Homo sapiens: one gene and its partners. The protein of the gene in region 1 purifies or fractionates together with the protein of each later gene. This does not show direct contact. Each region holds a gene or a part of one and is shown on either strand. Other genes may lie near its edges. The genes, in order: SNX18, SOS1, TMEM154 and SOS2.

What was found.
Region 2: the proteins of SNX18 (region 1) and SOS1 purify together in Homo sapiens (pull-down; one study listed by IntAct). This does not show direct contact.
Region 3: the proteins of SNX18 (region 1) and TMEM154 purify together in Homo sapiens (co-immunoprecipitation; one large-scale study listed by IntAct). This does not show direct contact.
Region 4: the proteins of SNX18 (region 1) and SOS2 purify together in Homo sapiens (pull-down; one study listed by IntAct). This does not show direct contact.

The regions. Positions count from the first base shown.
Region 1 is NC_000005.10:54,520,122-54,528,262, reverse strand, and holds part of SNX18 (sorting nexin-18), read right to left. Parts: exon of another isoform or gene 7,217-8,141; intron 1-7,216.
Region 2 is NC_000002.12:39,111,595-39,119,735, forward strand, and holds part of SOS1 (son of sevenless homolog 1), read right to left. Parts: intron 1-8,141.
Region 3 is NC_000004.12:152,615,010-152,622,520, forward strand, and holds the end of TMEM154 (transmembrane protein 154 precursor), read right to left. Parts: 3' UTR 3,619-7,511; downstream 1-3,618.
Region 4 is NC_000014.9:50,155,619-50,163,759, reverse strand, and holds part of SOS2 (son of sevenless homolog 2), read left to right. Parts: intron 1-2,150; coding exon 2,151-2,278; intron 2,279-3,673; coding exon 3,674-4,329; intron 4,330-5,113; coding exon 5,114-5,195; intron 5,196-6,638; coding exon 6,639-6,761; intron 6,762-8,141.

The DNA of each region.
Region 1 (8,141 bases):
CAACAAGGTGAATGTATTCTCTGGATCTTGTGCTCTGAATTAAGCAAACGAGACCCCAGTAAACATGTTATAACTAAAACTTACTAATGAGGAAAATGTGTGTGTGTGTGTGTGTGTGTGTGTATGTGCGTGTATGCATGCGTAAGTTTAAACACCAAGAATCAATATAAAGTGAAATCATGAGGTATACAATATTAATTCTCTGGCACTTTAAGCATTTTCAAACTTCCCCTCCCCTCCCCAATGAATTATGTAAAGTCATTTCATAAACACAAAACTCTAAGACTTTTAAATCACTCACATGTTAATGACTTCATCCATAAAATACATCTAGATTCTATCTTTATTTCCTGTACACTTTAGACTGTTATCCATCATCATATAAATGGAAAAACAAAAACATCTTATAAATCTATTTCAAGATCAACCAAGTAGCTACTGAGTGCCTACTTCATTAATTCAGCAAGCATTCATTAAGTACTTGCTATGCATGTATAAAACAGTAGTTAACAGCTATACAACACAGGAACATAAAAACATAACCCACACACTAATAACTGAGCACCGCACAGACAATTATTCACAAAAGGACTACAATCCAAGGGGGATACTCCAAGGAAGGGGACTAGACCTGAAGCTAGAAAGTGCTTGTGTTGGGGTGGGGAGACATGGAGCAGAATGCATGAGCCTGATCTACCTAAAAGGAGAAAACTCAATTCCTGATTGCTGCTCCCCACCCCTGTTCTGACAATTCTTATTGTAGGCCAGGCCAAACAGGCCAAAATTACAGTCACCCTTGATGACTCCCCTTTCTCTTGCATGTCACATCCTTCACAATCCCATCTCTCAGGAAAACCTGTTGATTCTACCTCCAAAATATAGCTGGAGGGGGACCCCCCCCCCCGGCTCCCCGACCACCACCTCTGTTGTCTCCACTCTGGTCCAGGCCACCAGCATCTCTCACCTGGATTACTGGAGTATTTCCTACTAGCTCCCTGCTTCCATCCACCTTTGACTGCCACACGCCATTCTATTCTCATTGCTCTGGACTAAGTCTGTTAATATGTCCAGTTGGATGTCATACCTTGGCTCAAAATCCTGTAATTGCTTCCATCTGACTCGGGCTTTCATTCCAAGTCCTAACAGTGACCTGCAAAGCCTTGCAAATCTGACTTTCCATGACCTCATCTCCTAGGATCCTCTTAACTTCAACCACCTGGCCTTGCTGTTCCTCAACCTGCCTGGCACATGTCCACCCCAGGGCCTTACTTTAGCTAAACCCTCTGCCTGAAAAGCTCTCCCCCGAGATACCTGCTTGGACGACTCTCCTGACTCCAGAGTGATTCAGGTCTCTGCTTAAATCTCACTTTCTCAATGAGACCTACTTTGAGCACTCTTACTAGTACTTCATCCTGCCTCCCATGCCCTCTTTCCCTGCTCTACTGTTTTCTCCTAGCACATACCAAACTCCAACATACATCAAAACTTACCTCCTGTGTTTGTTTTTCATTGAGTGTCTCCACCCTGCTAGACTGCAAGCTCCACAAGGGTGGGGATCTTTGTTTTGGCCACTGATGCAACACTAGCATCTTGAATAGTGCCTGGACGATGATGGGTACATACGTATTTGTTGAATAAAATCTAGTTTATCTTTTAGAGGGTCCTATGAATAAATCTAATGATTTTATCTCCCCTTCCTTCACTGTCCCCTTACCTGCTAAATAACAATTTATTTAGCAGAAGAGGAAAGTCAAATCACAGTGACAGATAAGTCATAAGAAAAGGTACAGAAATGACAAGTGAACTAAAACTCATTCAAATTAAAGTTTAATCAAGCTATAAGATCAATATCAGAGGCTGGGCACGGTGGCTCACACCTGTAATCCCAGCACTTTGGAAGGCCAAGGTGGGTAGATTGCTTGAGGTCAGGAGTTCAAGACCAGCCTGGCCAATATAGTGAAACCCCGTCTCTACTAAAAAAAATAAAAAAGTTAGCCAAGCATGGTGGCACATGCCTGTAATCCCAGTTACTCGGGCGGCTGAGGCAGGAGAATCATTTGAACTCGCGAGGCAGAGGTTGCAGTGAGCCGAGATCGCATCACTGCACTGCAGCCTAGGTGACAGAGCAAGACTCCATCTTTAAAAAACTGTCATAATTTATCTCTTTGGTAGTCCTATTAATTTGGGTCAGAGAGAAGTCGCTCCAGCTGTCTACCATACCACAGCTTCAGAACACCCGGGAACCCTCACCAGGCAGCAGCAGGCCAGGTATTAATCACTTTTACATTCGAAGTTCCTAGTGAGGTAAGCCTGCAATGCGTGATTGCTGATCTGAACTAAACGTGCATAAATGTTCTTTCACATCAACTGATAAGGGCTTTTCATGCTCCCGTAAAACAGTCACATAAGTAGACAGAGAACACTATTAAAATCAGCCTGAAACAATGTCTAAAAGTTTCCTGGATACTTAAGACTACTCTTATTTTTTTAAAAAAGTCAACTAACAAAATAGTACCTAGGAAATAATGAACCTCACTTTTACAGATGAGGAAACTGAAGCTCAGAAACATTAAGTGATCTGCACCAGAACACGTGATTTGGGTTAGAGGGGAGCCAGGAGGAGACAGTTTACATACACTCTTCAATGTGAACAACAACAAACGATTGACTCCAAACAACATCTACATTTATCCCAGTTGCCATTACTTCCGGTGTGCAATACAGGGCGAACTGATTAAAGCAGATATTTAATTGCTAGACTGAAGACTCCTTGAGCTTTTGTACTTTTGCCTACAATTCTGGTGGCAATAGGTTGCCAGGAGGGATGATAAGATTACTGGAATTGTCCTTCAAAGGAGAGCGCCCTTAATTTTTTTTTTTTTTTTAAAGAGACAAGGTCTCACTGTGTTGCTCTGGCTGGATTTGAACTCTTGGGCTCAAGTGATTCTCCTCCCTCAGCCTCTCAAGTAGCTGGTATTAAAGCCATGTGCCACCATGCCTGGTTGTCATCTCCTTTTAAATTCACCCATCTATTTTTCAAAAATAAACATTTAGTGACTAGCTACTATGAACTATAACATTTAATTCTCATGCTGACCTCGTGAGGAAGTGCCCCCACTTGGCCAAAGATAAGTGAGCGTTACGCAGGTTAAAATAGCTTGTCCAAAACTCCTCCATGCCCACACACTGGCCCTCCAGAGCCCATGCTGGTCCCGACAGGCCAGCTCCCACTGCGATGAGGCTCTGCACCCACGGCTTCTTGGCTTGGCATGCTGCCCCTTCACTGGCACAGCTTCCTCAGCAGACCCAGCTCAGTCCCACCCCTTGGTGCAACTCCTGGGGCAGACTGGCCCATCCACCAGGCTCTCAGAATCCTGGCACAAGGAACTGCCGAGGCTGGCTGACCTGTCTCTGTAGCTAGTCAAATAACTCACTTAAGACCAGAGGCCTACCCAGCCCTCCTGCAGACACCGGCAGAGCGGCCAGATTCTAGTCTGTGTTGTATAAATATGAGACATGATACACGTCTGCCTTCCGGATATAATCTTGTCAAACAGAGCTCAGCATTACTCTGCCACTTTATAATCCTTTAGTTAATGATACAGAGCTTCAAAAATATATGGCAAATTAAATCTAACTTGATATTTAAACTTTGATTTAAAAATACATGGGGTAATACAATAATAGTTTTTTATTCAGCCCAAAGAGAAGGAACATATTAAATAGTTCAAGGGAAGTGTTTGTAAGTGAATCACAGAACTTCTCACTTGTTTGGGTTCTGGCATTATGCTTAGAAGTCCTAAGATGGCCAGACAGGACAACATTGCTGAACAAGGAAACCTCATAGGCTCCCTGAGTTACTGGGAGGAGGGTGGGAGTGCAGGTCCTCTGCCTCCCTTCGGTCCCACTGTGGTCGGCATGACTCTGAAGGCTATGTGGCTCAAAAAAGAAGTCTGAGAAACCCCTGACGGTGTGGTATGAGCGGTGCCCACACCCAGTTTCGTGCCCAAGACTGTCCTTGGGCAGTCACATTTATATTTTAACCAAGGAACTGAGTCGTGTATTTCGAAAGCACCAACGGTCACCTTATTTTCACTAAGAAAACACAAACTGGGGCAAAGGGTAAGCCCCAGACCTGTTCTCTTTTTAGAGACATGAGGTCTTTTTAGAGAACAGCTGGGGGTAAATGCAGGGGAGAGGAGAAATGGGTTCAACTAAAGATGGAGTGAAAACAAAAAGAATGAACAGCCTCAATTTCTAGCCCAGAGGTTTCAAAAATAAGGATGAATTTGCAAACAGCCCCAACTTCTTAGAGCTTTTCTCTGTATTCCTGGCACCACCCTTTCAGGGCTATTTTTAGCTACAGGAGAATGGGGAGCAGACAGGGAAGGGTCTCCGTGTGGCCCAGCCTTACCTTGTGTGCCCTGCTGGGACTCCAGCTATCTTTAATTAATGTCTGAAGGACATCAGGCCAACTCTACTAGTGGTAAAAGGAAGCACAATGGTGAAATTCTACCCAGCAAGACTGACAGGCCCACTACTGGTATACCATTCCTGAGGTCCTGGGGCTTTTATTGAAAAAAGGCTCCATCTGGAACATTTAGAGAGCGATGAAGTAGAGTCTGTATATTTAAGAGTACAGAAAACAGGACTGCCTATTTACTTATCTAGTCCTGCCTCCCTGCTTCACACAGCCCAAATCGACAAATCAATTTAACACTATTTTACACCTTTTCTCTAGAAGAAAGACATTTCACTTAAAGGAACTCCCTCTAGCCATTTTTATTTAGTCCAAATTCCTAAACAAGGATGAAACCAGTATTTCTCATAATCTTTTACAGTCTTCCTTTTAGCAATAGTCGCAAGAGGTAAACCTAAATCTTTTAAACCTCAACTTGCTGCCACCTAGATTTAGCTTTATTAAATATTAGAGATTGATCATATCTTTGGAAACAAAACTGAATATGCCAAGAAACTAATAATAAAATATATTCCTCAGTACTACCCAAACTCCTCAACATCAACACTATAAAGGTATACTGCAGACAGGCATGATAAGGAGGGAGAAGATAAAATGCTATCACTTAAGAAAAAAAAAATCAAGACCACAGGGGTTACATGTCAGTGACAAACATCTGCACACTGCCTAGTCAGGGATTGATGAGCTACCTATGAACAAAGAACTTAAAGGACTCCTATTAGGTCAAAGCAAAACACAAATAAAATTCCAATAGATTCTGAATTCCCATCTAATGTACCGCAGACTACAGCAAACTACCGTCTTTCTTCGCTCAACTCCATTAACCTAAATAGTTAGACTCCATCCGTTGATGAAAAAAAATCAAAATTCCAGAATTCTCTTTTGGCTGAAGGAAGTATATCGCTTTCTTCACTTCTGCAGAAAGTATGTACACTAAAACCATTATTAGTTTAAAGAATGGGTTCAGTATTTAGTATAGTCAGGAAAATTTCAGCCCACCAACATTTAAGAGTATTTGAGTTTTCCACCCTCATTTTGCAGCTGGGTTCTCACCAGGATGGCCTCAGACATCCATCCCGTAACCAATGTGTTTTCTGAATGGGACATAAAGGCACACTGCAAGAGATGCTCACGCTACTGAAATGTCACTCAGGTTGAGTGCTTGGGAAATTCAGCAAAGAAGAATCTAGCAGGACTTGCTTCCCCCTTCCCAGTTTTTATTAATTAAGCCTATATGGGAAGGAGGAGGTGCAATGAGATGACCAAGTAAAAATAAAGCTATCAGGAAACTATATTAAAATATAATAATTTGCTGGAGAAACTTACGATGGGGTTGATAGTTAAACTGCAGCCAGCAGTTTAACACAGCACTGTCCAATAGAACTTTCAGCACTGATGGAAAAGTTCTATCATTTCTGTTGACCAATATTCAGTTCCTTAGTCACATTAGCCATATTTCAAGTGTGTAACAGTTGGGGTTGGGGAGGTGACGGAATTGAGATGCTCTTTACAACCACAAGTCCTGAATACGCTCAGAAAGCTTTTATCCTGGCTTATGATGTTTGTCTCATCTATACTCCTAAAAATGGCCTACACTAGCATCCTTGATAAACACTGGTTATAGGCAAATGCTTTTAGCCTTATGTATCGCACACTGTCACTTTAAATGGTAGTATTTTCTAAAGATGTGTCATCCAGGGACACAGGTTCACTGTACATTACACACCAAGGTTACAGCAGAAACAAACTATACTGAATATCAACTGCTGTTCTTTCCAAAGTTCCTAGAGATTATGTTTAGTGCTCTTGAATCTGTTAAGCCACATAAAATGATACTGGTTTTAATGAAGGAAGTTTTTCAAATCCCAAGTGACTAGAGACAAATCCAGTTCTATAATTTAAAAAAGATAAACTAGGCCGGGCATGGTGGTTCACGCTTGTAATCCCAGCACTTCGGGAGGCTGAGCTGGAAGGATTGCTTGAGCCCAAGAGTTAGAGACAAGCCTGGGCAACATAGCAAGACACCTGTCTCTACAAAATAAATAAAGAAGTAAATAAGCTATATATTTTTTGTTTTGGACACAGGGTCTTGCTCTGTCACCCAAGCTGGAGGGCAATGGTTCAATTATGCCTCACTGCAACCTCAAATTAACTCCTAGCCTCAAGCAATCCTCCAGCCTCAGCCTCCCTAGTAGCTAGGACTATAGGTATGAGCCACCATGCCACGCTAACTTCTTTATTTTTTGTAGACAAGGGAGTCTCCCTATGTTGCCCAGGCTGGTCTCGAACTCCTGGCCTTAAGGCAATCCTCCTGCCTCGACCTCCCAAAATGCTGGGATTACAGGCGTGACCCTGGCCATAACCAGATGGTTTAATAGACTAAGTAGACCATTGCTGTAAACTCAAAATAGATATTAGAACACACACCATACCTTTTCTAATATATAATTTCAAAAGCAGGCCATTTGACAAAGCCTGAGTGCATGGTGTGATTGACAGTGAATGAACTGATGCCAACCTAAAGTAGACAGACACCAGCGGCCCAGCACACATGTCCAAGTGTCTGTACTTGGTTCCATCCTTTCAACTGTTCACCAGTAATTTGCACAAACTCACAGAAATGTGTAAAAGGGCAGCCAGCATAGGTCCAGAATGATGTAACACAATGGAATTTAAATGCTAAATCCCTCCATTAAAGGCTCACAAAGGCAGTTCCACCAACACCAGTCAAAAAAGTCAAAGATTCATAACAATTTATGTTTTAAAAAAAGGCATAGGTAATGTAAATACAGGTTTAATACAGGCCAACAGCAATATGATTGCACAAAAAACGAATTCAATATTAGACTGCATTTACAAATCGCAAATTGCCAAGAAAGTTACTACTGTCTACTAAAATTAGTACTGATGTCCAGGGTACTCCCTTTCAGCGGCAGCAACAAGACTGAAAACGTTTGATCATTCTCCCAGCAAGCCCCTTCCCCCATAGGAGTCAGAAGACCAGTCACGCATTTGGAAGGGGAAGGAGAGAAGCAGAGAGGAAGGAAGCGAGACTGCTGTCTCCAAATGTCTGAAGGCGGTCCCAGGGAACAGAAAGACAATCAAGGGAGGCAAACTTCAGTTCAATACAAGAAAAGACATGCCAGAGATCAGGGTTGCTCATAAACGGACTGGCCCACCAGAAAGGCAGTGAGCACTTCACCAGTAAAGGCCAGACCCGCTGAGGAAACAGGGACAGTAGGTTTCCCTGCTCAGGAGTAGGTTTCCCTGCCCAGCCGCCCCTACACTGGACTTTCACAGGCAAGACTGCCTCCCTAACTCCCACACCTCCCCATTCTCTCAATCAAGGCATTATATGAGAATGCACATTAGTAAGAAATGTTAAGACAAGCACTACTGCTATATATTTTTTTAATTTGCAAATTCTGGTGCTTTAGCAAAGGTCAGAGACACTAACAACTATTAATAACTCATGAACTCTGATAGTTGGACAGCTAACTCACTGGGATACCAGCAACGCTGCTCTCAGATCCAATACTCAGATTATATTCATTCTATGTAGTTTCCCTAAACAATTTTCCTAAACAACGTTCTCAATTTCAGTACATTAATAGATTTCAAACTCAAAATGAGTACGCTTTTCCTGAAATTACTTCACTTC
Region 2 (8,141 bases), on another chromosome or scaffold:
GAATACAGTCTCCCTCTCTGCTACAGTACACTCCATAATCTCTGTGGACTTCATCATCATTCCCATATGCAACCCAATACATCAACTTTAGAGCTCCTAATTGTCTTACCTGCTTCATCTCTGGAATCCTTTTTTTTTTTTTTTCTTTTTTTGAGACGGAGTTTCGCTCTTGTTGCCCAGGCTGGAGTGCAGTGACACAACCTTAGCTCACTGCAACCTCCACCTCCAGGTTTCAAGCGATTCTCCTACCTCAGCCTCCCGAACAGCTGGGACTACAGGCACACACCACCACATCCAGATAATTTTTGTATTTTTGGTAGAAGTGAGGTTTTGCCATGTTGGCCAGGCTGGTCTTGAACTCCTGAGCTCAAGTGATCTGCCCTCCTTGGCCTCTATCTCTGGAATCTTAAAACTCCAAAATATAACAATTGTCATCATCTCTAATCACATCCCCTATCTACTCCCACTATCCTTCTCTTCTAACTCACCAAGATTTTGAATCCATGGAGCCCTAATTTTTCTTCCAATCCATTATTTCTCTTATATACCCTTACTTCCTCTCTATCACTTGAAATATCCCTATCTTCTTAATCTCTACTGCCGCTACCTGCAACCAACTGTCTTCTCTCCCGGCTTACCTGAACAGATAAGCGCTATTGGAGGAAAATCTCACAACCACCAGATCAACCCTACTCTGAGTTTATGGTCTCCACATTCAGCACTGCTGAGCAATTCCTCTCTCTCCCTCTCTCTCTTGCTCTTTCTTTCCCATGGCTCACTGCAGCATCAGCCTCCTGAGCTCAAGGGATCCTCCCACCTCAGTCTCCCAAGTGGCTGGGACTACAGGTGCGTACCACCATGCCAGGCTTTTGTTTTGTTTTGTTTTTTGGTAGAGACGGTGTTTCACCATGTTGCCCAGGCTGGTCTTGAACTCCTGGTTTCAAGTGATCCTCTCACCTCAGGCTCCCAAGTGCTGGAATTGCAGGCATGAGCCACCGCACCTGGCTTGCAATTCCTTTCTAAGGCACTGGTTGGCTCCTCTACACTCCACAGCAGCAATTCCCAGACTTCATTATTCCTTCTAAAGTCCTTACTACTTTCCTTTTCTTCACTCTGTAAAAAAAATTTGCCTTTCATTTCATCATGAAAATGGAGGTGATTTGGCCAGGTGCAGTGACTCATGCCTGTAATCTCAGCACTTCGGTAGGCCGAGGCGGGCAGACTGCCTGAGCTCAGGAGTTCAAGACCAGCCTGGGCAACATGGTAAAACCCTGTCTCTACTAAAACACAAAAGATTAGCTGCGTGTGATGGAGTGCGCCTGTAATCCCAGCTACTGGGGAGGCTGAGGCAGAGTTGCTGGAACCTGGGAGGTGGAGGCTACAGTGAGCGGAGATCACACCACTGCACTCCAGCCTGGGCGACAAGAGCAAGACTCTGTCTCAAAAAAAAAAAAGAAAAGAAAAGAAAATAGAAGTGATTATTTAGCATGAACTCCCTGCTCCCCAACCTACAAACCCATCTTTATCACTTTCCCTCCTGTATCTCATAAGAAAAGATGTCATCACCCCTGCCAGAGGTAGCATCACTTAGTGTTTTATTCATTAATGTATTTAGAGACACAGTCTCACTCTGTAACCCAGGCTGGAGTGCAGTAGCCCAATCATAGCTCACTGCAGCCTCAAACACCTGAGCTCAAGCAATCTTCCCACTTCAGCCTCCTGAGTAGCTGAGACTACAGGCATGTACCACCATACCTGTCTTCTTTTTTTTTTTTTTTTCCCTTGTAGAGACAGGGTCTCACTATGTGGCCTAGGCTGTTCTCAAACTCCTCCTGCCTTGGCCTCCCAAAGTGTTGGCGTCAATAGCATGAGCCACCATGCCCAGCAATATAGTGTTTAAAAATACAGATTTTAGAGTTGGGGGAGGGAGGCCATGGTGCAAAAATAAATAAATAAAATAATTTTAAAAATAAAAATAAAGATTCTGTAACTAAATTACATGGGCAAATTTAACTTTCCAAACCTTGATTTTCTCTCCTGTAAAAAGGAAGCCGTAATAGTATCCTATGAGAATTAAATGAGAACACAGGTGAAGTGCTTACCTTATCTCCCAAACAGTTCAAGGCAAATCCCATTGCTTTGTGTTCCTGAATCTTCACCAGCATTCTCTATTAGCTCCTTCCTCAAAGGCTCTTAGTAAGTTTTTGTCATCTCCAAGCAAGAAGCAAAAATGTCTTACCCAATCTTGAATCTCTTTTTTGCCTCAGCACTATCTCTTTTCCCTTCCTTTCCAAGCTTCTAGAAAAAAATAATCTGAGCAAAAAGGTCAGCAGCCCTTGCTATTCTTACTTTTCCCATGTTCTTCCATCTTCTACTATCACAATAAAACTGCTCTGACATAGTGACCAATGACCCCTTAGCTGCCAAACTTAACACTTTTCAGGCCCTTTGACTTTTCTATAGCCTGGTATGATCAATGACTCTTTCTTTTCTTTCTATTTTTGTTTCTTTCTTTTTCTGAGACAGGGTTTTACCCTGTCACCCAGACGGCAGTGCAATGGCACGATCATGGCTCACCTCAGCCTCAACATCCCAGGCTCAGGCAATCCTCCCACCTCAGCCTCCTGAGTAGCCAGGACCACAGGTGCGTGCCACCAAGCCTGGCTAATTTTTTTTGTTTTTTGTTTTTCTTTTTGTTCTTTTCTTTTTTTTTTTTCTTTTTTTCTGAGATGGAGTTTCACTCTTGTTGCCCAAGCTGGAGTGCAATGGCACAATCTCAGCTCACCATAACCTCTGCCTCCTGGGTTCAAGCAATTCTCCTGCCTCAGCCTCCTGAGTAGCTAGGATTACAGGCATGCGCCACCACGCCCAGCTAATTTTGTATTTTTAGTAGAGATGGGGTTTCTCCATGTTGGTTAGGCTGGTATCGAACTCCTGACCTCAGGTGATCCCCCGCCTCAGCCTCTCAAAGTGCTGGGATTACAGGCGTGAGCCACCTGGCCCGGCTGATTTGTTTTTGTTTCTTTTTGAAACAGAGTCTAGCTCTGTCACCCAGGCTGGAGTACAGTGGTGTGATCTCAGCTCACTGAAGCCTCCAACTCCCAGGATTCTTGTGTCTCAGCCTCCCGAGTAGCTGGGATTACAGGCGTGCACCACCACGTCAGGCTAATTTTTGTATTTTTAGTAAAGACAGGGGTTTCACTATGTTGGCCAGGCTGGTCTCAAACTCCTGACCACAGGTGATCCACCTGCCTTGGCCTCCCAACATGCTAGGATTACAGGTGTGAGCCATCGCACACAGCCAACTCTTTTCTTGAAGCATTCCTCTCTCAACTTCTCAGACACTAGGGTTTCATTCCTTCTGCCTGACTCCTTGCTTCTCGGTCTCCTTACATCATTCCTTTTCCTCTGCTATCTCCCTATACACTATTTCCCACTCCCTTCCCCCACTTCTTATGCCAGCCCTTTTTCAGTCTTACTAAAATCATTTTCAGCGTGTGGTCTCATCTACTTTTTAAAATACCTTCATTGAGGTACAACTGACATACAATAAACTGCACATATTTAAAATATACAATCTGAAAAATTTCAGGATATGTACACACCCCTGAAACCATCAGCACAATCAAGATAAGTAAACATAAAAAGCCTCTCCCTAAACAACCACTGATCTGCACTAGTTTGCACCTTCTAGAATGTTCTATAAGTAGACTCATATAGTATATACTCTTTTTTGGTTTCCCTTCTTTCATTGAGTATAATTATTTTGAGATTCAGCCATGTTGTCATTTGTATCAAATTTGTTCTCTCTCTTTTTTTTTTTTTTTTTTTTTTTTTTGAGACAGGGTCTCATTTTTTTGCCCAGGCTGGAGTGCAATAGCACAATCACACCTCACTGCAGCCTTGACCTCTCAGACTCAAGCAATGCTCCCACCTCAGCCTCCCAAGCAGCTGGGACTACAGGCTCATGCCACCACACCTGGCTAATTTTTTTAAATGTTTTGGCTAATTTTTTAAGTTTTTTGTAGAGACAGGGTTTCATTATGTTGCCTAGGCTGGCCTGGAACTCTTGGGCTCAAGTAATCCTCCCACTTTGGCCTCCTAAAGTGCTGGGATTACAGGTGTGAGCCACCACACCCAGCCAGTTTGTTCCTTTTTATTGCTGAGTAGTATTCCACTGTTTGTATCACAATTTGCTTATTCATTCACCTGTTGACGAACATTGGATTTTTTCCAGTTTTTGACTGAAAAGAGATGCCATGAACATTCATGTATAAGTCTTTGTATAAGCTTCATCTATATTTATGGCTTTACTTACACATCTAGAAGTTCCAAATCTGCTTCATCAGATACCAACAACCAATAGTATTCCACTGTTTGTATCACAATTTGCTTATTCATTCACCTGCTGACGAACATTGGATTGTTTCCAGTTTTTGACTGAAAACAGCTGCCATGAACATTCATGTATAAGTCTTTGTAGAGGCTTCATCTATATTTATGGCTTTACTTACACATCTAGAAGTTCCAAATCTGCTTAATCAGATACCAACAACCAATAGCCAGTTGGAGAAGTTCACTTGAATAACCCAAACTTTTAAGTCAACATTTCCAAAAATCATCTTATTATGCCACTCCTCTCTCCATCCTAAGAGCTTCTCCTACATTCTCTATCCTGACTAAAGACAATCAAGTCAGAAACAAGACTATTCCTGTTCCATTACCATTCCCCCAATCACTCAGTGAGTTACTAGATCCTGTCAATTTTGCCTTGTAAACTTCTTTCAAATAAAATCCACATCCATATTTCCATCCTTGTTCAAATGCACCCTTAGTTCAAATGTGTATTATCTCTTGACTGGACTATTAAACTAGGCTTCTAACTTTTCTCCTCACTTTACGTCTCATTCTTCTCCAAACCATTTTCCATTCTATGGCCAAAGTGAATTTTCTAAAATTAAAATGTGCTGTTACTCCCCTACTTAAAACTTATTGGCTGGGCACAGTGGCTCACCCTGTAATCCTAGCACTTTGGGAAGCTGAGGCAGGCAGATGGCTTGAGCCCAGGAGTTCAAGACCAGCCTGGTGAAACCCCATCTCTACAAAAAATACAAAAATTATCTGGATGTGGCAGTGTGCCTACAGTCTCAGGAGGCTGAGGTGGGAGGATAGCTTAAGCCCAGGAGGTGGAGGCTGCAGTGAGCCAAGATCGCACCACTGCACTCCAGCCTGTTAAGACTCTGTCTCAAAACAAACAAACAAAACAAAAACAAACAAAAGAAACTTTATCAATGGCTTCTAATTACCCAAGAAAAAATTTAAATTCCTTAGCTTAACATATATAAAAACTGTTCATAAACCAGTTGTCTCTCCAGACATGCCCTGCCACTTCCCATCATGTTCTAATTTAGTCTTTTCTGATTATGTCATTTACTTTTTTTTTTTTTTTTTGAGACAGAGTTTTGCTCTTGTTGCCCAGGTTGGAGTGCAGTGGTGCAATCTCGCCCCACTGCAACCTCCGTCTTCCGGTTTCAAGCTATTCTCCTGCCTCAGCCTCCCGAGTAGCTGGGATTACAGGTGCCCACCACCACGCCAGGCTAATTTTTGTATTTTTTAGTAGAGATGGGGTTTCACCACGTTGGCCAGGCTGGTCTTGAATTCCTGACCTCGTGATCCGCCCACCTTGCTCTCCCAAAGTGCTGGATTACAGGCGTGAGCCACTGCGCCCGGCCCTGTCATTTACCTTTTTAGCCTGAGTGTCAAGGGCAATACCTGGTCTATAGTAGGCATGATATATTTGTGCAATAGATAAGATAGGACTTAGACTCATAGATGCGGTGAAACAGATACAGTGGGACATTCCAGCCATATTCAGGAAAAGTAGCAGTCCGGACTGGCTAAAGCAAAAAGGAGATAAAAGGTTATGGTAGACAATCCAGTCAGAAAAGCAGGATGAAGCCAAATATCAATTGCTGTTAATTCTATGCTAAAAAGTGCACTTTAGCATAGGTTGAACTCAAAAGACATCAACAATTCTGAGTGTGACATGTTCAGAAGTGTCCTATAACTGGTGAGATTTGAAAAACAGAAGGTGAGGTGGGGGCCAGTGAACCCCATTAAGAAGTTATCACAGTAGTCTGACAAAGGAGACTCAATTAGAGAAGTCGGAGGAGGAATAGACTAGAAGAACATGTCAAAGGGAAATGAACATACAGGCTCTACCTGAGTGTGCACAGTAATACAAAGAAGCCAGAGATGACCCCAACATTTTAAACCAGTCAAATGTAACAATAAAGCCATTAATCGAGAAGAAAAACTGAAATGACAGGTGGAGGAGAGAAGTGATAGTTTTAGTTTGTATATCCCCTCACCTATTTATTCAAATTGAGTGCCTACCAGATGTCAAGCACTATAAGTATGGGGAATAAAATGTGGGTAAGATATCATCCCTGTTCTCAAGGAGCATCCAATCTAGTTATAGGCAAGTAAATAGGAACTTAAAATTCACAGAGCTAGGACAGGGTGCAAAAAGAAAACAAAGGAGTAATATCCAACTCAGCCCTGATGATTTGACAGTTCAGGTTGAGTGAGTCTAGAAGGATGAGTAGTGTTGGACCAGGCAAAGAAGGATGAAGGGACTAGCATATCCAAAGAGCCTCAGGTAAGAGTAAGAGAACACAAGTCGGATGTATCTACGAATAATTCAATAACAAATCAAAGGAAGAAATCAAGATATGGAGATATCCACATGAAATGTCCAGCAGGCAAGTAAAAACGTAGGTTTTGAGCTACCAACAGCATATCCAGATATGAAACATACTGTATTTTCAATCTTGTTTAGAATCATTGTTAGTGGCTATTTAAATAAGAATTGGAAGAACCTTACATATCAGCTAGATTATGTACACTTCCACCTCCTCCTATCACTTCTACTGCAAAAGTATCTCTAACTTAAAGTCAAAAGCTGTTTTATGTAAATATGCAAAAAGGACAAGTGGGGGCTGTGGTAAGGTGGAGATACATGACCTGTCTAAAGAAGGGAGCCATTTACTCAACTCCAGCAGTTTAGTGCCTCGCTTGAATACAGGCCCTAAATGACAAGACCTTCCTATTCTTCAAGAAAAGCCGAAAATTCAGGTTTTATGTAATATCTCCCATTTTCAAATATTAGCAACTAATTACATTTAAAAATAAAACAACACTATGCCAGCCAAACAAAATGCTTTTGTGGACAGATTTCAGCAAGGGCCACCAGTGTGGCAGAATTAAACAACGTCTGTCAACTCCTACAATATTCTTTCCACTGCTTCAAAGGATCCTCAGCTGATACCTTGGTGATTCCCCTGGGAAAGGAGCTGCTTTTGCCTCTAAGCAAAATGGCCCCTATTTGGCAATGCTTTATGAGTTCCTTTACACGTTTTTAAACAATTTCCGTGTCTCCCCTTACTCTATCCGGACACCAGCTTCTAGCATCACAGAGACCTCCTACACCCCTTCCATTACAAGCTAAGAAGTCAAACTTGCAAGTAAAGCAAAAGTAAGGAGTGAGAGCCTGAAGGGATTTCTAAGGAGTAAAGTATGTAAGATATATGGCATCTTTTCTTCTGTTTTTTAAAAAAAATTACATAGATGTTTGTGACTAGTCAGACACTTGAAGGGGAAAATGTCCGTAATTTAAGCCAGAAATATATGAGCAAATTCTCCTGAAAAACCAAATAGTTTCCACTGTAAGACAGCAAGAGGGACCGGAGGAGAACAGGGCAAAAGGGAAAGTAAAAGTTACTGGCCTTTGAGAAATATCAGACACCTTTTAATGTTTAGCATAAAAGGTAAAACATAATCTCCATTCTTAGTAGAAGCAGTTAGCATGAAACATTCTTTGAGCAGCAAGAAACTGGGATTTAGAAACACTATTAGAAGAGTAAAGCAATCTTTACAGAAAAGGTAAATGAAGAAAAGAAAACAAAAATAGTCTGGTTGTCACACTGCTGCTTTAGAAGCTTTAAAAACGTAAGAACACTTCCTAATTATACTAAAACATTTAAAAGCACAGATCGGGGGTATGTAACTTCAGGTAACAATGTAGCAAACTTAAACATACAAAGGCTAAAAATTCTTAACAAGCCAAATGACAGCACCAA
Region 3 (7,511 bases), on another chromosome or scaffold:
CACAAGCTACCTGTGTGACCATGGACAAGTTGCCTCATTTCTCTGTGCCCCAGTTTCCCTATCTGCAAAATGGGGGCAATAGTTTACCAGTGTCCTGCGGAGTTAAGCAAATTAATTCACATGAGGCACTTAGAAAAGTGCCAGTCATGGAGTGAGTACTCAATAAAAGTCTTCATCATCATCTCATCATTCCTGCTTAGAATGACTCTCACTGTAGGAGAATGCCTGCTGTGACCCAGTGACCTACAAAATAACACTTGGTCTCAGACTTCGGGGCAGCACGAACTATCAACCGTCTAGGAGGGAGCCACCCAGCAACTCTCTATCTTAAAAAAATGCACCTGTCACGTCCTCCGTCTTGTCCCACAGACTTCCAGTTTGTGCTTTTTCAGCTACTGGACTGTGAACTCCTCAAGTGCAGAGACTGCAATAGTAACAACCAGCATGACAGAATCCTAACCACACTCTAGGCACTCTCAATAGATACGAGCATTCGTATCTATTAACTCAAGTCGTTTTTCCAAAAGTCTTGTGGGGGACCTGGGGCACCAAGAAGTTAGGTAACCTGTCCAGAGGCACAGAAGCAGCTTTAAACCCAGACAGTCTGGCTCCAGGGGCCATTGGCTTTTCTGCAATATCTCACCTCCTCTGTGCCTGGTGCATAGTAGGCACTCAGGAAAATGTTTCCTGAATAAGTGAATCCCAGTGGCATCTTGAGGGAAGCCTTCTAGTATTTTCTCTGTCCAGGATTTCTGACTAGCTTCCTCTCCCACTGACCCTTCCACTGCAGCTGATAAATGCTCCCTCTCTTTTCAGGAAACCATTGCATGCTCCCTCTGGGCTGCTGGAGGAAGTCATCCTGTGTAACTCCACGCTGTGGTCCATTTCCAGACCCTTCTCACTTTCTCTTTCTTAGAAAGAGATAGGTGGAGACTCCAACACACTCCTCAAAATGAAAATTGCTTTGCTAGGCTGGTGGAATTCAAAATGGTTTTTTAAAAAATTTAACTGGATTTTATTTGCAATATACATTTTTTTACTCTGTGAAATATGTATATGTTAATTGTAGAAATTATAGCAACTACAGAAGTATACAAGGAAAGGAATTTAAAATGGAGGTTAGTTTTGCTCTTTACTCAAAATATTCTTTCATGTTAAATGATCCTTACAGCAAAAACATGAAAAGAATCTAAGTGATTAGACATTATGCATTATGGGAAGAAAAAATGTTTCCAGTTCTGCCTTGTTCCCATTTAGCTTCTCAGGGTCTTGACAACTGCCTTAACATCCTCCTCTCCTGCCCTAACTGGTGAATTGAGCCACAAGGTGAATACAGAGGCCCAGAAAGTTCCCTGATTCTCCCATAGTTTCCAAAGGGAAATGGGCAGAGTGTTCAGCCTGGATTAAAGGAATGCATGCAGAAAAAACCTGTACCTTCCATACCAAGAAGCAAATCTTTGAGGGTTTTCTACCTCCCCTTTCAGGATCCTTTCTCTTTCCTACAAAAAACGGTGCTGGTCACATACACCACAATATATTTTGTTCAGTTTTGCAAATGATTTTCAAGCAACATTTATGCTGTAAGAATATTAGACCTAAAATTAGGATTTTTCTGTTTTGGTTCTTAATATTTCTTCTTTGGTTAATAAAAACGTATTCACCCTATTTTTTTTTAAAAAAAACATATACTACAAGGCAATATGTATGTGTTGTAGAACATTTGGAAAATATTAAAAATGCACAAAGAAGGAAATGAAAAGCATTAGTAAAGCCACCATCCAGAGAACCTGGCTCATTCTCAACTTCTGACTCTCTAGATGTGGATAAGTAAGTACAGAGGGAAAGAAACATGTGCATGGTGGATACCTCTGCATTTGGCTGCTCCCGAGTGCCCGGCATCTGTTCCTAGCACTCTGATTCCCTTTAGAAACTGCTTTCCCCTGTATCTCCTCCCCACTGCCAACCACCTAACCACCCACCACCCACCCATCCACTCACCCACCTGCAGGAGTAGAGAAAAGTGTCAGGCCCACTCCATCCCTGTACGCATTTTTACTGGGTTAGGCATAAAACCCAGATAGTCTAATCAAATTCCTCTGGTGGTTGGGGGGGAGCTTTTAAATATTAGACCCAGGGAAGGATTTTCCCTTCTACTCTGGTGGTAAAGACAGAAGACTCCTGGAGCTCCCAGCTGCAATAATTACAGTCCTGTAGAGAAAGCTGGTCCCAGAGAATGAATGAAAGACAAAATACTGGAGAAGCCTGATGGGGTTTGAGTCCCTGGTCTCATTGTTACTCATGTCAGTTTTACCTGGTTCTGGTTGTCCCTGGAATTGGCAACTTCTTGCCCTTTCCAAGCATGATGACATGAGCCAATAAGTTTCCTTTTGGGCTGGACTAGTTTGAGTTGGACATTTTCTCACTGGAACCAAGAGTCTTGTTTAAACAAACACACCACTATTACACATACAGAGAGACAATTAGAAGTGTATTTATTTAGTATATATATAACACTATGCGTATGTGTGTGTGTGTGTGTGTGTGTGTGTGTGTATATATATATATATATATATTTTTTTTTTTTTTTTTAATGCAAAGAAAACTGTTGGGCCTCATGTCACTGGCTCTGGATAAGGCCAAATGTATGGGTGGAGCTGCCCCCTCCCGCGGTTGACCCAGTTAGCTCCTAGCATTTTCACGGCTCTTATGGGAGTCAGCATGTGTGCCCTGATGCTGTGGGAGTGTGGGTCCAAGTTTAGGGTCTGTGATTCACACTGTCTCTCTGGAACTGGGCTTTCTAACCTAACAGGGAAACTGGGCAATGCTGACAAAAAGAAGGTATTGGCTATCTAGTGTCCTTCCCAGCCTTGCACTCTCAGGCCACACTGACCCCTGTTCACTGTGCAGCCAGCGGCCAATAAAGGCAGACTGCATAGCTCAGCTCCGTTGTGGAAACCGCCTCTCCTCACCTCATTCCTGCCCCTTTCCAGTCTGCCTCTGTTTCCCTGTCACCTCTAATTTATATTCCAGATTTTGACCCCTCCCCTGCCCCTTTGGTTTTAACAACGAATCTTAGTTTTTGCTGTTTAACCCACATCCTCCCACCCTGCTTCTCTTGCTCATGCTCTGGACGCCCCTGGAACACTGATCCTGACGTGAGTTCATGTGGCTGCTTCCTTAGAATCTTCATCTCAGTTGCCGGAAGGCAGAGGGTCTAACAGTACAAGCCAAGAGGAAGGATGGGGTTCCCTTAGGAATGGGACAGGGTGGGTTATGAACAGAAAGGCACCTTCATGCCAGGTAAAAAGCAATCAATTGGCACTTGTAACAAGATGGAGGTATTTCTGCATGGATTTCATGGAGTTAAGAGGTAAGTGGGTCTTAGCCCATTAACTGGCTTAGTTGGTCTCAGTGACATTCAGAGGTGCTGGGGAACATCTCAGGAAGGATTTACAGTGCCTCTTATTTTGTGAATCTGTCTTCCTGCCCAGAGAAGAAACAATCCTTCTCTGTGCTTGTATTATCACCTAAAATAGATGCTTTCCTCTTTTTCTTAATAAAACTTGTATTTCCTTTCTCTGTGGACCCTCCAGAGGGCAAAGAAGAGAAGCTCAGATCTGGGTTGGAAAGAGCTGCTTCGAGCATTTTAATGATCAGTTAGGCTCCATCCCCAGTTTTCCTTCACCTTCCAAATTGGGGCCACTTTCTCTCCACCTCCACTTGCTTGTTAGTTCAATTATGATCGTTCTCTGCTTCCTTCCATATTGGATTTAATGTAGCTAAAAATACAATACAATACACACAATAGGACAATATGAAATAAAGATAAAGAATGACATCAGGATCCATTAGATGGAAAGTGAGGAAAATGCAATTAAACCAGGAAACTTGGGAGAAAATGGTGATGGAAGATGAACAATACCATATTTGAGTTCTGCACTCACTGATGATAAAGACTGATTAGGTACTTAAGGAAAGATGATATGTAACTCCTAGCTCATTAAATAATTGGTTTTTCTGTTATTATGGAGCGTGCAGTAGCGCCAAGCACTTTTCAGGATACAGAGATGAGTAAGACTGATCCCTATCCTCAAGGTGCTCAGTCTAATCTGCTCCCATTTTAACCTCATGCTTTGAGAGTAGTCATACATTTCTATGTGTCTGATCCACCTACAACCCATTCAGTCCCATGGCTCATGACTCATGTAGTTGGTAAAACTAGTTCTACCACCTACTACAGACTACTGGACCAGGGGTCTATGTCCAAGCCAAAGAGCACATAGGCACTGGGATTCAGGGAGGTCAAATATCCACAATGTTCCTTGACACGAAACTACCTAATATATTTCCTCGATATTGCATGAAGACACACCAATTTGGGCAGATCACATTTTCCAACGGTGCCTGCAACAAATCCCTTATCCCACTTGCTCTTCTCATAATGTGGCTTTGACACGCCTCCAAGGACAAGTGGGGTTTATGTCCTTTCCACCTTGAACCTAGGTAGACTTTGTAACTGTCTCAAACAATAAAGTATGGCAGAAGTGATGTGATGTGATTTCTGAGTCTAAATTATAAAAATACTATGCATTTCTACTTTGCTCTCTTGGGACACTTGCTCTTGGAACTCAGCTGCCATGCTGTGAAGAAGCCCAAGGAGTCTATGGAGAGGCCCACATCATAAAAGCCAAGGCCGCTGGACCACAGGCTTGGCTGGGCTCCTATCCGACAGCCAGAACAAACTTGCCAGCCATGTGAGTCATCTGAAAGTGGGACCCCCAGATCCAGTTGAACTGCCCAGCCAATGCCGTGTGGGAGAGAGTTGAACCATTTGCACTGAGCCTCATGCAAATTGCAGATTTGTGTGAAAAATAAATTGAGTGTTGTTGTTTTAAGCTGCTAAGTTTTGAGGTGTTTAAGCAGCAATAGACTGCTGAAACACCCATCCAATCAGGTTTTCTCTCTTGGGAAGTGTGAACACTGGATGCCTCCAGGGGTGGGCCACTTGAGCTCAGGCTGAATCCCAAGCAATGCTGATTTTGCTGTTCTCCACACTCCTATATACATTCTAGGCTGGAGTATCCTGCAAGCCAGCACGACTATGGCTGTGAAGAGGCAACATGCCAGTCTGCTTGAATGTCTTTCCAATTCTAGCACTAAACACACCTGTCTCTAACTTGAGAGTCCCTGGACATGCCTCTCCACTGCAACCTTAAAGAGGATCATATGCTGTTTATGTCAGCTCTAGTAAGTGGGAACTTTATTTTTTCACCTAGTGACCAAACCTTTACCAGCACTTAGATTTTAAAACTAGGCTTTTTACTTATCACCCCTATTCTAAGCCCTGGCTTTTTTCTCAGCATGATAGACCATTACTTCTGGGCCTAGGGTCCTGCCTTCACTGCCTCTGTTCCTTCTTATCTCAGCCTGCAGCCTCTGTTACTTCTTATCTCAGGCTATGCTCACCTTAAGGCATCCTTGACAATGACTGAAACTTTTTTTTGTTTGTTTTTTTGTTGTTTTTTTTTAGACAAGGCTGGAGTACAATGGTGTGATCTCATCTCACTGTAACCTCCGCCTCCCAGGTTCAAGTGATTCTCCTGCCTCAGCCTCCTGAGTAGCTGGGATTACAGGTACATGCCACTATGCCTGGCTAATTTTTGTATTTTTAGTTGAGACGGGGGTTTCACCATGTTGGCCAGGCTGGTCTCAAACTCCTGACCTCAGGTGATCCGCCTGCCTCGGCCTCCCAAAGTGGTGGGATTACAGGTGTGAGCCACTGCACCCCGCCAAGTGATGCCTTTTAAAACACTTTCCTACGGCTAGTTATTGGGGATGCAGTGCAGTGCAGTGATTAAAAACTTGTGCTTTGGAGTTGGAAAGACATGGAACAAGGTATAAGTTCTCTAAACCTACCTCATAAGTAATTACTAGGATTAAAATGAGATGATGTATGTTTAGTGTTTAGCACCTTCTGGCCAGGGTGGCTACCTCTTCAGATACCCAATATTCTTCCACCACTTTGTGAGACAGAATCCCTTATTGTTGAAAGTGATAATGTACCAACCATAGAGATGACTGTTCCCTGCTGCCTTGCAGAGATTGGCCAATGAGATGTAAGCAGAGTTGCTTCACTGGGCTGGCAGGAAAGCTATTTAAAAGTGGCTGACCTACTTGGGAGGCTCACCCTTGTGCTGGTTCCCTCTCTTTCCTTCTTGTGAATATCATGCTGGAGTTACAACCACCATTTTGGATCATGTGGCAACACAGGAAAGAAGCCCTGTACTAATGAAGGTGGGGAAGAGTTAGAAGGAACTTGTGTCCTAGATGACCAGGGAGCGGCCATATGAGCTCACCTTGAATCAGGAACTTAATTCCTAACTGATCCACATGATGAATGCTGGTCAAGATGCATCCTTTCCCTAACTCTGTGGGACTGCATGCTCTTTGGGTCCATGCTGTCTCCAGTCTGGCTAAGTTCTAGTTAAAACAGGGAGGAAATAGACTCTGCATCAGTTTCTAGGGGTAGATTGATGCCATAATGGACCAGGTTTAACTTTAGTTGAGACTTTTAGGAGAAATCTTCCTGCCTGTTGTTTGTCAATAATACTGACTGGTCTTTGTGAGCCGAAAGAATAAATCCTTATTCAAGGAAGTCTTCATGTTATCTACAACTTATGAATCTGCCTTTCAGCCTTACTTTCTTCTAATATCAAGGTGTGAGATGAGGTTAAAATTAAAGGCATGAAGAAAAGTGAGTAATCAGGAAAAAAAGAGGTTTTCTTGTGGATTTTTCCATTTTTACTAGAATTTTTTTTTTTTTTGAGATGGAGTTTCACTCTGTCACCCAGCCTGCAGTGCAGTGGCTCAGTCTTGGCACTCACTGCAAACCCCGCCTCCCAGGTTCAAGCAATTCTCCTGCCTCAGCCTCCCGAATAGCTGGGATTACAGGCGACAGCCACCATGCCTGGCTAATTTTTGTATTTTTAGTAGAGACAGGGTTTCACCATATTGGTCAGACTGGTCTCGAACTCCTGACCTCAGGTGATCCACGTGCCTCAGCCTCCCAAAGTGCTGGGATTACAGGCATGAGCCACCATGCCTGGCCTACTAGAAATATTTTTAAAAGTTATATTCTCATAAACAATTAAAATTTCATTCCTTCATTTAAAAATGTTTTGTAAGGAAGAATAAAGACAAGAATGTGTAATAATATATTTTAGATATGCAGAAAGTCTACTTAATTTTTAGGTTAGACAATTTTATACAAAGCAGGCCCCTTTTTGAATTGGTATTGTTTCGTTTATTTAAAGAATTATATGGATCAAAAGAGGGCAATTAAGAATTATGAATTATGAATTCTTTTTCATAGACACAGAAATTAAAAGAACTTTTCCTTAGAAAGATGCATAATTCACCTCTACTCTTAGTAAATAAAACATTTTAGTAAACAAATATCTTATCCTCAAATACACTTTTATTCTAAATATTGATATTAATTACATAGAAAT
Region 4 (8,141 bases), on another chromosome or scaffold:
TCAACATTCATATTTATTAAAGAAATATTTTAGAGTGGAGCTGAGAAGACTTTCTGTAAGAAATCTTTAAAGCAGCAAAATAAGTGATTTTGCCAGTAACTTTCACCTGTAGAAGTCAGAATAACCAAGCACAGATCTTTTTTCAAACTTTCTATGATATTTTGACTTTGCTTCCATCCTTTCTATTGCTTAGTCTAGAGATTAAGGTATTACTTCTAATAATAGTCATTTACATTATTTATGTTGCTAATCTCTTGATGACAAGACCTCTACATGTGTCTTGAAATAAAATCAAATGGCTCTGTGCTTCATATAGAGACTAATTTCTAAGACATAAATAAAAGGTAATGGACAAAGTTGTCAAACAATAGCCAGTTAGTTCTTTGCTGAGGAAAGGGAACCATTGCTGAATGCTTTTGAGATTGCTCTTGGAATATAAGGAAAATTTTAATTTATCACAAAATCTCTAATAAGTTAAAGATCACAAAATAGATTTAAGTTTTTAAAAATTTTCTGAAGTGATCATAATTCCCCATATCCTTGCATAAATATATATTTATAAATACATAATATATATAATATCTATATGATGTTCCACTTTGAACTCTTCTTTCAAAAGATTAAAACAGTTTGAGGGCAGCCTGGGCAGCATAGTGAGACCCCATCTCTACAGAAAAATTAAAAAAAAAAATTAGCCAAGCATGGTGGCACACATCTGTAGTTCTAGCTACTTGGGAGGCTGAGATGGAAGGATCACTTGAGTCCAGGAGGTTGAGGCAAGGCTGCAGTGAGCCATGATCACCTCACCGTATTCCAGTTTGGGTGACAGAGTGAGACCCTGTCTCAAAAAAAAAAAAAAAAATCAAAACATTGGAGCACAATACAATACAATCTGAATTATTTATTATAAGTAAATTTGCTTTCTTTCTGAGAGTGAAATACAAGAGAACATTTTGGGGCAAATGAAATAGAACCAGAGTTTTAGAGATTAATAAGTCAGTTTCTAAATCTTCTAAAGATTGAGATAGAATTAATTTTCATGGTTTCTTGACATTTCATATTGTAAAAAATAGCAGTGGAATCCTTTGAGAGATGCTGTTTACGGAAAAGTTTATGATAGATTGAAGTGTTAAAAGTTAGTACCCTTGATTATGTTATATAACAAAGATTTGTAAACTTGAAATTGCTAAAACAAAGTAATCATTAGAGAATATGAAATAGTTTATAGTTACTTATTTTCTCTATTCATAGTTGCTAATGAATAAAAGTAAGTTGTAAGCTTCATGCTTTAGGTGTTTTAAACTTTTTAAATATGTTTGGAAAATGTGGCCTGGCACAGTGGCTCACACTTGTAATTTCAACACTTTGGGAGGCAGAGATGGGAGGATAGCTTGAGTCCAGGAGTTTGGGACCAGCCTAGTGAGACCCTATCTCTACAAAAAATAAAAATAAAAAAATTAGCTGGATGTGGTGGCATGCAACTGTGGTCCCAGCTACTCGGGAAGCCTTATGCCCAGGAGATCGAGGCTGCAGTTAGCCCTGCCACTGTATTCCACCCTTGGTGACGGAGTGAGTAAGACCCTGTCTCAAAAAAATAAAAAATAAAAATAAAATGTCCGAATGGTTTTTACAGTTGCTTTTTTTTTTCCTGATTACTATGCTCATGTTAGTTTATATCTGTATTGTGTTTATGTTTATAGAAAGAAGGTTGGGCCAGGACTGGTGGCTCATACCTGTAATCCCAGCACTTTGGGAGGCAGAGGCAGAAGGATAGCTTGAGCAGGTGTTCAAGACCAGCCTGGGAGACATAGCGAGACCCTGTCTCTACAGAAATTTTAAAAATTAGCTGGGTGTGGTGGCATTCGCCTGTGGTCTCAGCTACTTGAGAGGCTGAGAGTGGAGGATCATTAGAACCCAGGAGCTCAAGGCCACAGTGAGTGAGATCCTGTTTCAAAAAAAAAAAAAAAAAAGAAAGAAAAAGGGTTGGTTTGAGAGGGCAGTAGGTATATATAAAATTATAGCTGTTTTTATTAAGTATATATAAAATTAACTTAGAGTTGATAATATTTGTTGCTGCTTTTTCTATTACTAGAAAGTTGGGGGAAGAATCAAACAATGCAGTTTTGATTTTTCTTTCTGTTTTTTCTTAGCAATTGAAAGCATGTAGTGAAGAACAAGAAGACAGAGAATGTTTGAACCAAGCTATTACTGCTCTCATGAATCTCCAAGGTAGCATGGACCGAATTTACAAGCAGTATTCACCTAGACGTCGACCTGGGTAATTCCAAAGTGTTGAAAACGTGAATGCCTCTGCTTACTTCGCTGTCTCTGATGCCTGGTTTTCAAAGAAGTGTGATTTATTGTGATAGTTACATTATTGAAAGTTGTGCTTGTCATACTTTTATATACTTTTATGTTGGTCTTTTACTCTCTTTTTTCCTTTTCCTTTCCTTTTTTTTTTTTTGAGAAGGAGTCTCTCTTGCCCAGGCTGGAGTGCAGTGGTGTAATCTCAGCTCACTGCAACCTGCAGCCTTAGCCTCCTGCGTTCCAATGATTCTCCTGCCTTCGCCTCCCAAGTAACTGGAACTACAGGAGCCCACCACCATGCCCAGCTAATTTTTGTATTTTTAGTAGAGACGGGGTTTTACCGCGTCGGCCAGACTGGTCTCAAACTCCTGACCTCAGCCTCCCAAAGTGCTCGGATTACAGGTGTGAGCCGCTGCGCCCAGCCTTTTTTTCTTTTTTTTAAGAGACAGGGTCTCACTCTGTTGCCCAGGCTGGAGTGCAGTGATGTGATCTCAGCTCACAGCAGCCTCAACCTCCTGGGCTCAAGCAGTCCTCCTGCCTCAACCCTCTGGAGTAGCTGGGACTCGAGTAGCTGGGTGGCACATGCCAACACACCTGCCTAATTTTTGTATTTTTTGTTGAAATAGGGTTTTGCTATGTTGCCCAGGCTGGTCTTGAACTCCTGGGCTCAGGTGATCTGCCTGCTTTGGCCTCCCAGAGTGTTGAGATTGCAGGTCTGAGCCACTGCACCTGGCCAACCCAGCCTAGTCTTAAGATTAGCATTGTTGGCTGGGCACGGTGGCTCACGCCTATAATCCCAGCACTTCGGGAGTCCAAGGTGGGCAGATCGCCTGAGGTCAGGAGTTTGAGACCAGCCTGGCCAACATGGTGAAACCCCATCTCTACTAAAAATACAAAAATTAGCCAGGCGTGGTGGCAGGCACCTGTAATCCCAGCTACTCGGGAGGCTGAGGCAGGAGAATCACTTAAACCTGGGAGGGGGAGGTTGCAGTGAGCCAAGATCGTGCCATTGCATTCCAGCCTGGGGGACAAGAGCTCCAAAAAAAAAAAAAAAAAAAAAAAAAAAAAAAAAAGATTAGCATTGTTATATTATTAGGATAGACTTAATAAATGTTTAAAAATATAATCTATGAAAGAAATTTAGGATTTTTTGTAATTTTAGTTCTTATAGAGCCAGTAGTACTTCTCTTTCATAATAATGAAATTGAGGGCTGTATTATTTAGTGGCAAAGTTAGAACTAAATGCTGTGCGTAAAAGCTACTGTTTGGTTATTTAATATTTTACTCACTTGATTTGAGATGGTTTATGCTTGAAACCATTTGGGTTGCTAGCTGTTGAATAAGCTATATTGTTTGTTTTTTCTAGAGATCCTGTTTGCCCTTTTTATAGTCACCAATTAAGAAGCAAACACCTGGCTATCAAAAAAATGAATGAAATTCAGAAAAATATCGATGGATGGGAAGGCAAAGATATTGGACAGTGTTGTAATGAATTCATTATGGAGGGACCATTGACAAGAATCGGTGCCAAACATGAACGGCATATTTTTCTGTTTGATGGCTTAATGATCAGTTGTAAACCTAATCATGGCCAGACTCGGCTTCCAGGTTACAGTAGTGCAGAATACAGGTTAAAAGAAAAATTTGTCATGAGGAAAATACAAATTTGTGATAAAGAAGATACTTGTGAGCACAAGCATGCATTTGAATTAGTATCCAAAGATGAGAACAGCATAATATTTGCTGCTAAGTCTGCTGAAGAAAAAAACAACTGGATGGCAGCCCTTATTTCTCTTCATTATCGTAGTACTCTAGATCGAATGTTAGATTCAGTATTATTGAAAGAAGAAAATGAGCAACCACTGAGATTACCAAGTCCTGAAGTATATCGTTTTGTAGTAAAAGACTCTGAGGAAAACATTGTTTTTGAAGACAACTTGCAAAGTAGAAGTGGCATCCCCATTATTAAAGGAGGAACTGTAGTGAAATTAATTGAAAGGTTAACATATCATATGTATGCAGGTATGTGAAACTCATTACAACTGCTGACCTAGGGCCTGGGACCCAAAAGCTTTTTAAGGATGCTCAAAAATATTTGAGGCTTGGGGAAAAAATGGATTGCCTCCAAAATATAAAAATACTGCAAAAACAAAAGGAATAAATAAGAGAAGGAATTAAAGGTCTAAAAATGTAATATTGTTAACTTCATTAATTATTGAATAAATATTCATAAAATATGCATATTCATGAATTTTTTTTTTTTGAGACAGAGTCTTGCTCTGTTGCCCAGGCTGGAGTGCAGTGGCGCTATCTCTGCTCACTGCAAGCTCCACCTCCTGGGTTCACGCCATTCTCCTGCCTCAGCCTCCCGAGTAGCTGGGACTATAGGCGCCCGCAACAATGCCCGGCTAATTTTTTTTTTCTTTATTTTTAGTAGAGATGGGGTTTCACCGTGTTAGCCAGGATGGTTTCGATCTCCTGACCTCGTGATCCGCCCACCTCGGCCTCCCAAAGTGCTGAGATTATAGGCGTGAGCCACCTCACCCAGCCATATTCATGAATTTCAAATTTGAAAACAATCCTCGCTTATTAAGGATATACCATAGTATATTCTCTATGTCAGTATTTCTCTATGTATGGCAGGGATACCATGGTATCCTGCCAGTACCATGATTGTTAGGAAAAGCCACAATCTGAGGAGCCAAAGTAAAAAGAAAAAGGGAGGAAGGCCTCCAAATATGGTACTTTGAGTTAATTAAACTGAATACATTAAACATGAAACCTATTTTATGCTCTGCCTTTTCAGATCCCAATTTTGTTCGTACTTTTCTTACCACATATCGTTCATTTTGTAAACCACAGGAATTGCTGAGCTTACTGATTGAACGGTAAGAAAAATATGTATTTCAGTTATATTGACATTTTGTGAAAAATTAACTGTATTTTGTAAAGTGCCTAGTACCTAATAAATACTCAAGTTAATTATTGAACATATTTTATTTGGCATTAAATTGGCAGTATTACTATTCTCTTCAAATGGAGTACTCCCTAAAATCTGTTTATAAACACAGATCTTTTCAGCTCTTAGAAATATTTCAAGTGGTAATCAGAAAGACTAATTTAGAGGATGAAAGCACTATATTTTAATGAATATTGTTCTGTGTAATAAAATGATATTTTCTTAAAAGAGACTTTTCTACTTACCACTATTTTTTTTTTTGGACCGTAGACTACTTTGCCAAATACTTTCCACTTTTAAAACAAACTTGTTATGAAAACTTTCAAAACACATACAAGAGCAGATACAAGAATATAATAAACCCATTTATTCATCAACCACCTTCAGTAATTATCAACTCATTGTTTCATCTGTTTCCCTACAAATTTAAACACCCCACCCCATGATTATTTTGAAGTAGATCCTAGACAACATAATTCATCTATAAATATTTTTCTATGTATCTCTAGAAAATACGGGATCATTTTTAATAATCAGATATCATTATTAAACCTAAAAAATCAGCAATTCCTTTATTATGATTAACTTTTAAAAATTAGTGTTGGGTTGAATTTGTTTTACCTAGTATTATAGTGGCATTTTAAATGTTTTATAGTTTAAAATGTAGAATCTGGACTCCAGAATGATTTTTAGTTTTACGTTTTAAAACTTACTAAAACTTATTATTATACCAAAGCTTATTAACTGTATTATCAAGATATAATTCTAGATCTCTATCACTATGTTGTTTTATCAAACTAAATTTACCAGACTGAGTCAGTGTAATGTGCTATGAGGATCTACTTAGTTGTTTCCATGTCCAGAATAAGGAAAGCACACGTTAGACTTATAGTTTAGCTGTATTTCCTATGTTTGAGCAAGGTTTTTTATCTTTATCTTATCCACTTAGGTAAATTATTTAAATATTGTTAAATATTCGGTTTTGGCCCTCTCTTTGAATTTGTACTCATTTAAATAAATTTATTAGCCTACTTTCATTTTAATAATATAAATATTAAAGACATTGTTAGATAAGCAATTTCTGTCATGTTCTTTAAATTCCTTATGAATTCTTTCCTTGGCTCTTTTCCCTGGACCTTTTCTGTATTATCAGTGCTAAAAGACAAAACTTTAGTTTTTATAAAAGTAAGAATACAAAACGTCAGTTTTGTATAGCCAAAGGACAGTTTTTTGTAGTATATCATACCTCAAGGGAAGTTTAACAGTAATCCACTTTTCGTGGAAGTGGTAGGAAAGAAGGTTGCTTGCTGTTTTCCTCCTTGTATTTTCATTATGTATGAACGGATTTTTCTCCTTTTGCTTTTCTTCTTAGGTTTGAAATTCCAGAGCCAGAACCTACTGACGCAGACAAATTGGCAATAGAGAAAGGCGAGCAGCCAATCAGTGCAGACCTTAAAAGATTTCGCAAGGAATATGTCCAACCAGTACAACTTAGGTTTGGCTTGAATATTTTTTATATATATATATATACACATATATATACACACACACACACATTTTATGTGTCAGTTTTCAATATATAGTTAACACAAAAGCTCTCAGCTTTTAATTCAAATATAGGGAATATTTTTAACTTCACAGCAGTTAAGTTAAACTAAAAGAGTTCTTTCTCAGTGAAGCTATTCTTAAATACCCTGAAGAAATTCAAATATTTAAATATCCTATGTTTGCATCACATATCTCTGGCATGTGATATGTTATGCTTACGTATCAGGATACCTATTTTTTATTGTAAGTAAAAATTATAAAATTTCATGTGAGCTTTCCTGCTGTCAACCTTTTTTCACACTTTTTTCCTTCATTTCCCTTTGCGATCATACAGTAATCCTGGCTTTTTTTACAATTTATAATATTTGTGGAAGTTCTAGCCCTTTTCCCACTTATCTCTCACAAAATATATAGACATTTGTTAGTTTAATTGCAATAATTTCTAAAAATGTGTTTGATTGTAGAAGCTTCCAGTTAATAAATACTACTGTGTGCCGGGGATTACCCTAAATGCTTTATCTTTTTTATCTCATTCTTACAACATGATTACTATTCCTACTTTATATATAAGGAAATTGAAACCTAGCAAGGTGAAGTAATTTGAGCTAAGTTATGTAAAGGGAGTGGCAGGACAAGATTCAGACTCATGTCTGACTTTCTTTGCGTGTGTGTGTGTGTGTGTGTGTGTACGTACCACTAAGCATTGAAAATTGGAAGCGCCTTCTCTTAGCCCTCTTTACTGTCCAAGTAACCAAAGTATTATCTTCCTCCTTCCATTGGAAACCAAGTTATCTTATTAATTATATGTAATTTAAATTTTTTTTCTCTCTAAATTTCAAGTTTCCTTGATTACTGTTGACCAATAAATTGTAATTTTGGAACTGAGTATATTAGTTATTTATTTCCCAGGATAATTGCCACAAACAAATGCAGTTTTAGAAGAATGATAGTGCTCCCAGCTATATGTCTTTCACTAAAACTTTTAACGTCATTCTTTGTATAAGAAGATGAGATTATTTATGTATCAGCAATAAATAAGTAATTCTTTTCTACTAGCTGTGATGCATTTGTACTTATCTACAATCACATTAAATCCCTTGATATGACACATACATTTATGAGGTTGCTATTGGGTGGGGTAGGGGGTGGGAGTATAATCTTCGTTTCTCAGTCATATAAGCTCTTTATGTATTTCTAAGCATTTGCTGTGTTCTCAGTCCTGTACTTATAACTATGCTAAGTACAAAAATAACATAGACTGTCATGATATTGTGGCTTTCTTGGGGACTTTACTGGGGGAAAAAGACACATGAAACAGTTATATATT